Linked DNA regions of Homo sapiens: region 2 is linked to region 1. A link means that fine-mapping ties the variant in region 1 to the expression of a gene that starts in the linked region. Tissue or cell type: whole blood. Region 1 holds a variant in brackets; the other region holds the start of a gene. All regions are shown on one strand. Distances are between the middles of the regions.

The links. PIP is the estimated chance that this variant, and not a neighbour inherited with it, causes the effect.
Region 2: LSR starts here. The variant in region 1 is fine-mapped to the expression of LSR in whole blood (INTERVAL, PIP above 0.99).

What each region holds. Positions count from the first base shown.
Region 1 is chr19:35,211,844-35,216,988 of GRCh38, reverse strand. It overlaps LOC105372379 (a long non-coding RNA gene), which reads right to left. Exons shown (of 3, transcript XR_935938.2): 3 at 1,083-1,354. Among named protein-coding and RNA genes, the nearest start is that of FAM187B, 14 kb to the left of the region's middle. RefSeq lists enhancers at 2,963-3,012, 3,053-3,252, 4,501-5,145. The variant G/A (reference allele first, on the strand shown) is at 2,555.
Region 2 is chr19:35,246,301-35,251,445 of GRCh38, reverse strand. LSR (lipolysis stimulated lipoprotein receptor) reads right to left here and starts at 2,444. Exons shown (of 10, transcript NM_205834.4): 1 at 2,315-2,444; 2 at 787-1,131. The coding sequence starts at 2,423. RefSeq lists silencers at 2,281-2,350, 2,761-2,840 and enhancers at 1,953-2,754, 2,755-3,557, 3,691-3,860.

The sequences.
Region 1 (5,145 bases):
ACCAGGGACTGGGATGTAGAGGCCTCACCTTGTCATGTGACCTGGAGGTCAGGGTTTTGGAAGGCCCTTGGGCAAGGTTGAGTTAAACCAGACAAAGCAGTTCTCTACTGTTGCCTAAGAAATCATCTAAAATGGCTTAAAACAACATTGATGGATTTATCTGTCCATTCTGCAGGTTGGTAATGTAGGTTGGGCTCACTCATGTATCTGTGGCCAGCACTGTGTAGCTAGGTGGCTCTGCCTCAGGGGGCTGGATGGGCAGTTCGCTGGGGAGCCTCCAGCCTCTCATCCTCCAGCAGGCTAGCCCGGTCATGTTCACAAGGTCATGGCAAGATCAACTAAGAGAGTACATGGAAGCGGCAAGGTTTCTTGAAGTCTAGGCTTGAAACTAACACAGCATTACTTTCACCATGTTTGATTGGCCAAAAGAAATTACAAGGTCAGCCCAGATTCAAGGGGTGGAGACACAGACTCCATCCCTTGATGGGAAGAGTGGCAAAGTCACCTTGTAAGAATGTACACAAGGAGGCATGAAAGAGTGTGTCCATTCTGCAACATCCTACCACAAGCTCTCAGTAACAGCCTGGATTCTAACCCATGATGCATGTGGCCTCCACATGGCCTACTCTCTTAAGCTGTATCACTTCTTTTTTTTTTTTTTTTTTTCTGAAATGGAGTCTTGCTCTGTCGCCCAGACTGAAGTACAGTGGCATGATCTTGGCTCACTGCAATTTCCACCTTCCAGGTTCAAGTGATTCTCCTGACTAAGCCTCCTGAGTAGCCGGGATTACACATGCATGCCACCACGTCTGACTAATTTTTTTTTTTTTTTAGTAGAGATGGGGTTTCACCATGTTAGCCAGGCTGGTCTCGAACTCCTGACCTCAAGTGGTCCACCACCTCAGCCTCTCAAAGACCTGGGATTACAGGCGTGAGCCACCACACCCTGCTGTATCACTTCTGTTCCTCTCCTTAGCTTCCCTCAGCTTCTCATATAGCTTCCCTTTCTGTTATTTGAGCCCCCAAGAGCTTTCTGTATTAAAACACATTTGGCTGGAAGTAACAGACATCTGAGCAAAGCATTCTAAGCTAAGAAGGAATTTATTGGGTCTTGGAACTGAGAGCCAATACATTGAGAGTCCAGGGTTTGAGTTTTGCTTCAGGCACAGTTAGATCCAGGTGCTCACACAATGTCCTCGAAAGTCATCTTCCTCCATCTCTCTACTCCACTTTTTTTCTGCATTCCCTTAATCCTCAAGCAGATGCTTCCCACAAAGAGATGAGGTGTCCTTCAGCAGCTCCAGGATTCCATCACAGCAGCTTAGCAACCTTGATGCGGGGTGAGCACAACCACCTGTAACAAGAACATCAATGGTAGCAACAACATTGGAGTATTTACTGTGTGCCAGGCTCTCGTCTGAGTACTTGGCGGGTGTTTGCTTATTTTATCCCTATTACACCCTATAAGGTACAGATAATCATCACTCCCATTTTACAGATGAAGGAACTGAGGCACAGACATTACAGGAAAGGGGTCCGGATCCAGACCCCAAGAGAGGGTTCTTGGATCTCGCACAAGAAAGAATTCAGGGCAATTCCGTAGAGTAAAATGAAGGCAAGTTTATTAAAAAAGTAAACGAATAAAGAATGGCTACTCAATAGACAGAGCAGCCCTGAGGGCATCTGGCTGCCCATTTTTATGGTTATTTCTTGATGTTACGCTAAACAAGGGGTGGGTTATTCATGTCTCCCCTTTTTAGACCATATAGGGTAACTTCCTGATGTTGCCATGGTATTTGTAAACTGTCATGGTGCTGATGGGAGTGTCATATTGAGGACGAACAGAGGTCACTCTGGTTTTGGTGGGTTTTGGCCAGCTTCTTTACTGCAAACTGTTTTATCAGCAAGGTCATTATGACCTGTATCTTGTGCTGACCTCCAATCTCATCCTGTGAGTTAGAATGCCTAACCATCTGGGAATGCAGCCTCATTTTACCCAGCCCCATTCAAGATGGAGTTGTTCTGGTTCACATGCCTCTGACACAGAGAGATTATATCCAGGTTTAAGGTTACATTGGTTGCAAGTGGTGGAGCTGAGCGTTGAACCCAACTGGGCTGGGTCTAGAGTCCTTGCTCTTAACTATCACTAGCAGAAAAATAATAATAGCAAAACGTTTTTCAGAGCAGATAATCTGTGCCTGGCATTATTCTGAGTATCAGGAAATCATGATCATGATCAACATCCATTGAATCCTTCCAGCAGCCCCATGAGGTAGATTCTATGAGGCATTACCTTCATTTCACAGAGGGGGGAAATTGAGGTACTGAGAGCATAGACAAGCCTGAGGTCCTCTATGGAGCAGCTGGGACTTGAACCTAGGCAGCGGGGTTCCAGAGTCCACATCTGCCACCCCCAGGGCCTCATCCCTGAGTCAGGGGTGAGGTCAGCCTCAGAGAACTTCATGAAGTAAGATGGAGGGAGGGGCCCAGGACAGCCCAGCAAGCTCACGAGTCATGTGTCCACCTTTCCCTCCTCTCCCCTCTTCCCATAGCC[G/A]GGTCCAGTCTTCCCAGAATTCACCTGTGAATAGACTGACCAAATGCAAGCTGGACCAGTGGGGTGAGTCCAGGCAAAGCCAGCAAAGAGGCCAGTGGCCCAGCCTGAGCCACAAGGCGGGGCTTGCCAGGGCCCACAGTGGCTGGTGTAAACCTATGCCAAGGAGGGCATGGGGGTGGAAGGGAAGACCCCCTCATTCCCCAGGGCAGCTGGGGCTCACTTCGAGTCCTGCCTCACGCACCTGCACGTGACTATAACCTTGACACTCATCAGACCTCTGCAAAACAATCCTCGTCCACTGCCCTGACAGGAAGCCTGGGCAAGATGCCAAGTCATATTTAATGCGTTTATGAGAAACCAAGACATGGCTATTTATAGCCCTTTGATTCATCTGCCAAGTGAGAACCGGGTACATGCAATGACATCTTACGAGTGGAAAGTAGGCAATGCCGTCTGCCCCTTACCATAGACAACAGGCACACCTTGCTGCGTGGGCTCAACAGGTTCTCACGCCAACCTGTGGAAATGCCACGGACAATGGTCCCCATTCTGCAGTGCAGAAACTGAGGCTTGGGAAGGGACAGTCACTTGCTTCATGGACAAAGTGTGGCAGGGCTGGGGATGGAATCCAGGCGGACTCTTAACTCACCCTGCAAGCTGTCTCGGCTACACGGTCCACACCCCACTGTCAACTCCTTTAAAGACAAAATTCTTGGCCGGGCGCGGTAATCCCAGCACTTTGGGAGGCCAAAGTGAGTGGATCATGAGGTCAGGAGTTTGAGACCAGCCTGGCCAATATGTTGAAACCCCGTCTCTACTAAAAATACAAAAATTAGCTGGGCATGGTGGCGTGTACCTATAATCCCAGCTACTCAGGAGGCTGAGGCAGAAGAATCACTTGAACCCAGGAGGTGGGGTTGCAGTGAGCCGAGATCATGCCACTGCACTCCTGCCTGGGTGACAGAGCAAGACTCCGTCTCAAAACAAAACAAAACAAAACAACTGTTTTCTGAATAGTTCATGGGACTCTTTGGAAACATTCTGCTTGTTTCCTGCCTTCTTTTTTCAGCCCTATCTCTTCTTTCTGGCCCTCTTCCTTCTTCTTTGATATTAAAATACTTTTCTTTTTTTTTTCTTTTGAGATGGAGTCTTGCTGTGTTGCCCAGGCTGGAGTGCAGTGGTGCGACCTTGGCTCACTGCAACCTCCACCTCCTGGGTTCAAGTGATTCTCCTGTCTCAGCCTCCCCAGTAGCTGGGATTACAGGTGTGCATTACGATGCCCAGCTAGTTTTTGCATTTTTTTTTTTGAGACAGAGTCTTGCTCTGTTGCCCAGGCTGGAGTGCAGTGGTGTGATCTTGGCTCACTGCAAGCTCCTCTTCCCGGGTTCACGCTATTCTCCTGCCTCAGCCTCCCGAGGAGCTGGGACTACAGGTGCATGCCACCACGCCCGGCTAACTTTTTTCGTATTTTTTTTTCAGTAGAGGTGGAGTTTCATTGTGTTAGCCAGGATGGTCTCGATCTCCTGACCTCGTGATCCGCCTGCCTCGGCCTCCCAAAGTGCTGGGATTATAGGCGTGAGACACCGTGCCCGGCCTAGTTTTTGTATTTTTAGTAGAGATGGGGTTTTGCCATGTTGGCCAGGCTGGTCTTGAACTCCTGACCTCAAGTGATATGCCCACCTCAGTCTTCCCAAGTACTGAGATTACAGGTGTGAGCCCCCAGGCCCGGCCTAAAATGCTTTATTTCTTGTCTCTCCTTTCTTCATTCCTTTCCCCCTTCCTTTCCTCTTTTTCCTTTATTTCTTCATCTCTTTTATTCAAGGCAATAAACATGATATTAGCAATTGCTGATGTTAGAATGGGCTCACAAGTATCCCAAGTCTTCCTCGCCCAGCCTCTGTTGATTCTCAAGTACATACCACGATTCCCCCCATTTCACGGACATGGTGGGAATGCCAGGGCGGCTCCTCCCAGCTGAGTCCCCAGTGCATTTGGTTTGCTCCTGTCACTGACACCCGTGGTGTTGTGGCCACTGAGGCTGAAATCCAAAAGAGGGCACCAGAAATGCATCGAGAAAGTGCCCACCCTTGAGGAAATCTGATGTTCGATTTGTCCTTACTCTGCAGTGATCTTTTTTGGTGGGAGGTTCCTGGAGGTGTCCCCATTGCCTTTCATGGGGTCTCCTCTCTGTGCCTAAGTTTCCCCCTATGTAAAATGGGGTTAGCACTGGTACCTACCTCATTCTTATTGTTGGGAGGATTAAACTGTAAGGAGTGCTTAGAACAGTGCTTTGGCAGCATGTGCGTCACAAATGTTTCCTGTTGTTGGTGGCGCTGTTGTTATTAGACCCTGGCTTTGGAAGCTGGGTCAGACACCTAGCAAAACCCTCTGCCTGGGTGTGCCCACGGGGACTGTTCTGGGCCGCAAGCTTCCAAGCTGAAGCCTGCCCTGCAGGCAGGATGTCCGGCCTCCAACCGCAGCCTCCAAATCTTGATCAACAACTCTGATTTTATTGCCTCTCTGCCCAGATATCATCAGTGGGGGCATGGACGCTTACATGAATGCTTGGGGTCTCATAAGGGGCACTCTGC
Region 2 (5,145 bases), 34 kb before region 1:
TAATCCTTGGGAACCTGGATGAGAGCTTAGCACACAGTAGACCCTTTATAAGTTGTTACTTAGATAAATTTTACTTCTTACTGCTCGTGTTATTAATGATTATAGAACAAACCCTGGCCTCTTCTCTCCGTTACCCAGTTTTCTTTATCTTCAAGGACTTGAGAGTGTGTGTCGTGTTTGTCTCTCTCACTGCAATGTGGGCTCCACGAGGGAAGTGGTTTGATGATTTTGTTAACAGCTGTATTCCCAGGGCCCAGAACAGCACCTGGTATATGACAGGTACTCAAAAAATCTTCGTTATTAAATTAAAGAATGGAAGGATTAGCAGAAGGAAGAATAGTAGAATAGAATCGCTCCCTTTAGGCTGGGTATGGTGTCTCTCAGCACTTTGCGAGGCCAAGGCGGGCAGATCATTTGAGGTCAGGAGTTTGAGACCAGCCTGGCCAACATGGTGAAACCCCATCTCTACTAAAAATACAAAAATTAACTGGGCGTGGTGGCACGCACCTGGAGTCCCAGCTACTCGGGAGGCTGAGGCAAGAGAATTGCTTGAACCTGGGAGGTGGAGGTTGCAGTGAGCTGAGATCGCACCACTGCACTCCAGCCTGGAGTCCAGAGCAAGACTCCATCTTCAAAAAAAAAAAAAAAAAGAATTGCTCCCTTCAATGGTCCTTTCAGACACTGGCACTCAAGAGCTTTCAGATGGGGACTCCAGGTCCCGCACAAGGACGCCAGTCCCACCACCCGGGCAAGCCCAGCCTCATCCCCCTGCCCTGCCCAACATACTTCCGGTGATGGTAATCCTCCGGCCCTGGTAGTAATCTCCCAGGGTCACAGCGTTGCCCTGCTTGGTGGCCACGACCCTGACGGTGCGCACGCTGTCCTGGCACTCAACGTAGGGGTTGTAGCCTGGGTTCCCGGCTGCCAGCTGGGCATTGAGCTGGTTGTCGACGCTGGCCGGGGAGAAGGCATCGGCGATGCGGTCCCGGCAGAAAGACTTGTACTTCCAGATGACGATGGGTTGCGTGGGGGTCGAGGTCATCTGGTAGGTACAGGGCAGGGTCACAGGCTGGAAGAGGATCACCACGTGGTAGGGGTTGGACACGGTCACCTGGATGGCCCTGGCAGGAGCTGAGGGCAAGAGGAGAGACAGCAAGGGTTGCTGTGAGCTCAGGGAGGTGCTTCAACAGGAACGCCACCTGTCACCAGCTTGACACTCGCAAGTATGTGGTTTACAGAGTGCCTGGCACACATTGTTCCTTAATTGCCAGGACCAGTGAGGTAGCCACGATAATCATGCCCATTTTATAGACCCGTGGGGCTGAAGTGGCAGGTGCACGGTGACACGGCCAGTTTCCTTGGACTCGCCCGCCATCCCTCTTCCCAGCCTGTGGCCTCTGAACCACACCAGTCCCCTCTTCCCTTTGCCATTCACCCACAACAAGGGGCCTCTGTGTGGCCTGGGCAGGCAAGCCCAGATGGCCATGTTGATGCCCCCAGCGCCCAAGGCCCCACTTCAAAACCGACTACGAAGGATTCCAGGTTACCCGGGGCCTTTTGAATTTGGAGGGAAAACCATGGAGTTGTTTGCCTGAACTGCTTTGCCATGGAGGGACTAAAGCCCCCACAATATCTCCATCAGCCTCCCACCACCTCACCCTACTCTAAAGTCATTTCAAATGACTGAACCAAAAGTGTCTCGGGAAAGACCTCATCACCACCCAAATATCCCATCCAGGTGAAAGCCTGCCAGCAGAAGTCGGTTTCAAGTCCGTAAATCCATCCCACCAGACTCTTACGCACGTATAATCCGGAGCCCGCGGGAGGTGGGTGGGGTGCGGGGGATGGGGAGTCCCCAGTCCCACACCCACCCGAGGCCTAGGCATTGTTCCTTCGTCTCTGTCCCTCTAGGAAGCGTCTGATCCAGCCCTCCCGTGCCCTCTCCCCGTTACTCCAAAACTTAGAAATCCCCGGGTGCGCCCAAGTCCCATCCCGGCTTTTCTTTTCCCAGAGATCGGGCGGTCTTCCACTCCCTCCCCACAAAGAGTTCCATTCTCCCTGCCGCTCCGGGTCTCACCGTCCAGGGAGTTTCACTTCCTGCTATCTTCCAGATAAGGGCGCGGGGAGCGCTCCCCGGCACAAATGGGGAATTCCTCTCACTCCCGCGCGCAACAGATCGCCCAAGACCCAGGGGATCGGAAGGTCCCAGCCTCTGAGACCCCCGCTTCCCGCTTCCCGCCGCCTCCAACTCCATCCATCCCCCTCTACAGTTCCCTCCGGCGTTCCGCAGCGTCAGAGGCCCCGTGCCCCGTACCTGTGCACCAGGTGCTAAGCAGAAGCCACACGAAGACGACCGCGTCCCGGCCTGCGGCGGCCGGGTGGGAGCCCAGCCCTCTGGAGAGCCCGCCGGCCAACAGCGCCATCGCGGCCGTCTGGGCGCGTCTGGCCCGCGCGTCCCTTCCAAAGTACCTTAGGGGGCGCGGCGCGCACCAAGGCCAGGAGGGGTGCACGCTCCTCCCCTTCCCACTTCCGTTCCTTGTCCCTACTCCAAGTCCGTCCTGTTGCATTCTGGAAGTTTTAATGAGCGTAAACGACGTGGACAAAGGGCATGCTTTCAGATATGGGGGAGAAAGGTGCTTGACCCGCCGCGGTCCTCCGAGCCACACTCCACCCGCTGCGCGCTCCGGTGAATGGTTCGGCCCAGGTACACAAGGGTGGGAGCCGAGGGCTGGGCTTAGGGGTGAGCGGCGGGGAGGGGTTCCTCTGCCTCCCTCCCCGGAAGTGGGCTGACCCAGGTGCGCTCCGTCCCCCAGGGCCCGAACCAAGTGACTGGCCCGCTGGGAGGGCGCCTGCGGACCACAGGTCCCTTCCGGCCCCCATCTGCTCCGGCCAAACCAAGCGCACCGAGATCCATGCAACCGAGACCCACTTGGAGCGATTCACCTGTTGAGATAGGGCGGGTCCCGCCGCGCACCTGTTCCCTCCCTGCCCAAACCCCTCTCCCCGGCTGGCGATGGACCCGCCTAGGTGCGCCCTGCCGGGAGGAGCGAGTCTAAGCAAAGTCCTGGCTGGGAGAGGCTTGTTGGTGGCGCCTGACTTCTCCACTTCCACTGGGGTTCCTCCGGACCGGGTGGAGGGGGGGCGCTTCGGGCCTCCTGTGTCTCCCAGTTAGATGACCTGAGGAACCCTCTAAAGTCCCCGGAAGGGAAGCTCTGCCCCCTCAGGGATGCCCAAGGGGAATCAGGGCCAGGAAAAGTTGGAATTCCACTTCGGAAGTTTTCGCCACCTCCCCCACCCGTTCCCAACTTGTGGTTCGGCCCCTGGGCATCCCTAGCCCCCGGGTCAGCCCTCCGGAAATTCTGGCTCTTAAAGGGGCCGAGCGAAGGCGCGGGGCTTGGGACCGGTTTCCGCTTAGGAATTCCCGGAACGAGCCACCTGCGACCGAGGGCGGGGGCGCGGCGCGGCGATCAGCCTGCGCAGCGCTGGGCGTGACTCTGCTGTCTCCAGGTGGCGGCGAGGGAAAGCGCATCCTGGGGGAACCCTGGGCGCTTCCTCGCGTTAGACTCCCCCAGGTTGCCAACTGGCCAGTGGCTGGTTTCGGTACCCAGGCGTGCTTTGTTCTACTGGCCCTGTTAAAACTCAAGCCAGATCACGTCCACCTGCTCACAGCCCTCCTGTGGCTCCTCCTCACTCTCAGCAGAAACTGACCTTCCCCCTCTTATCTCACCTCCTCCCACTCTCTCTGGCTTACTCAGCTTCGGACACCCTGGCCTCCTCGCTGTTTCCAACTATACTTCTCACAGTCCTCAGAGCCATCGCCCGTGCTACTCCCTCTGCCAGAACACCCTTCCCGCAGATGTCCACATGATCTTCCTCCTCCTGTAGGACACCATTGCAGTGACACCTTCCCTGGCCACTTTTTATAAAATTTCAACCCGTTCACGTCCCTTCATCGTTTAAAAAAATATTTTTATGATAAAATATGCAAACTATAATATTTATCGCTTTAACCACTTCAAGTGTAAAATTCAGTGGCATTAAGTATATTCACAATGTCGTGTACCAATCACCACTCTTTATCCCCGAAACTGTTTCATCATCCCCAACATAAACTCTGTGACCATTAAACAGTAACTCCCCATTCCCTGCTACCTGTGCCCCTAGTAATTTCTATTCTACTTTGCTTACCAAATTGCCCATTCTAGGTGCCTCATATAAGTGGAATCGTCTAACATTTGTCCTGTGTCTAGTTTATTTCACAAAGAATAATGTTTTCAAGGTCCATCCATGTTGTAGTATGTCGAAGCCATGTAGCATGCAGTAAGATCAAAATTTCTTTTTACAGCGGACTAGTGTACCATTGTATGTATATGCTACGTTTTATTTATCCATTCATTTGTGGATGGACCTAGGTTGTTTCTACCTTTTGACTATTGTAAATAGTGCAGCTGTGAACACTGGTGTACAAATATCTGCTTTCATTTCTTTTGAATATATGCCTAAGAATGGAATTGCTGGGTGACTTGGTAGTTCTATTTTTAACCTTTTGAGGAACTGCCAAACTGTTTTCCCCAATGACTGCACTATTGTACATTCCCACCAGCAATGCACGGAGGATTCCAATTTCTCCACATCCCCACCAAAACTTATTATCCATTTTCTTGATTATGGCCATCCTGGTTAGTGTGAAGTGGCATCTCATTGTGGTTGTAATCTGCATTTCCCCAATGACTAACGATGTTGAGCATATTTCCACGAATTTATTGTCCATTAGTATATCTTCTTTGGAGAAGTGTCTATTCAAGTACTTTGCCCATTTTTGAATTGGGTTGTTTGTTTTTTTGTTGTCAAGTTGTAGGAGTTCTATATATATTTTGAATATTAATCCCTTGTTAGATATATGATCTGCAAATATTTTCTTCCATTCTCCAGGTTTTTTCACTTTCTTGATAGTGTCCTTTGGTGCACAAAAGTTCTTAATTTGATGAAGTTCAATTTACCTACTATTTTTTCTTCCTTGTACTTTTGGTATCCTATTTATGCAGTTGTTGCCAAGTCCAATGTGATGAAGATTTTCAACAATATTTTCTTCTAAGAGTTTTATAGTTTTAACTCTTAAATTGAGTCTTTGAGCCACTTTATTTT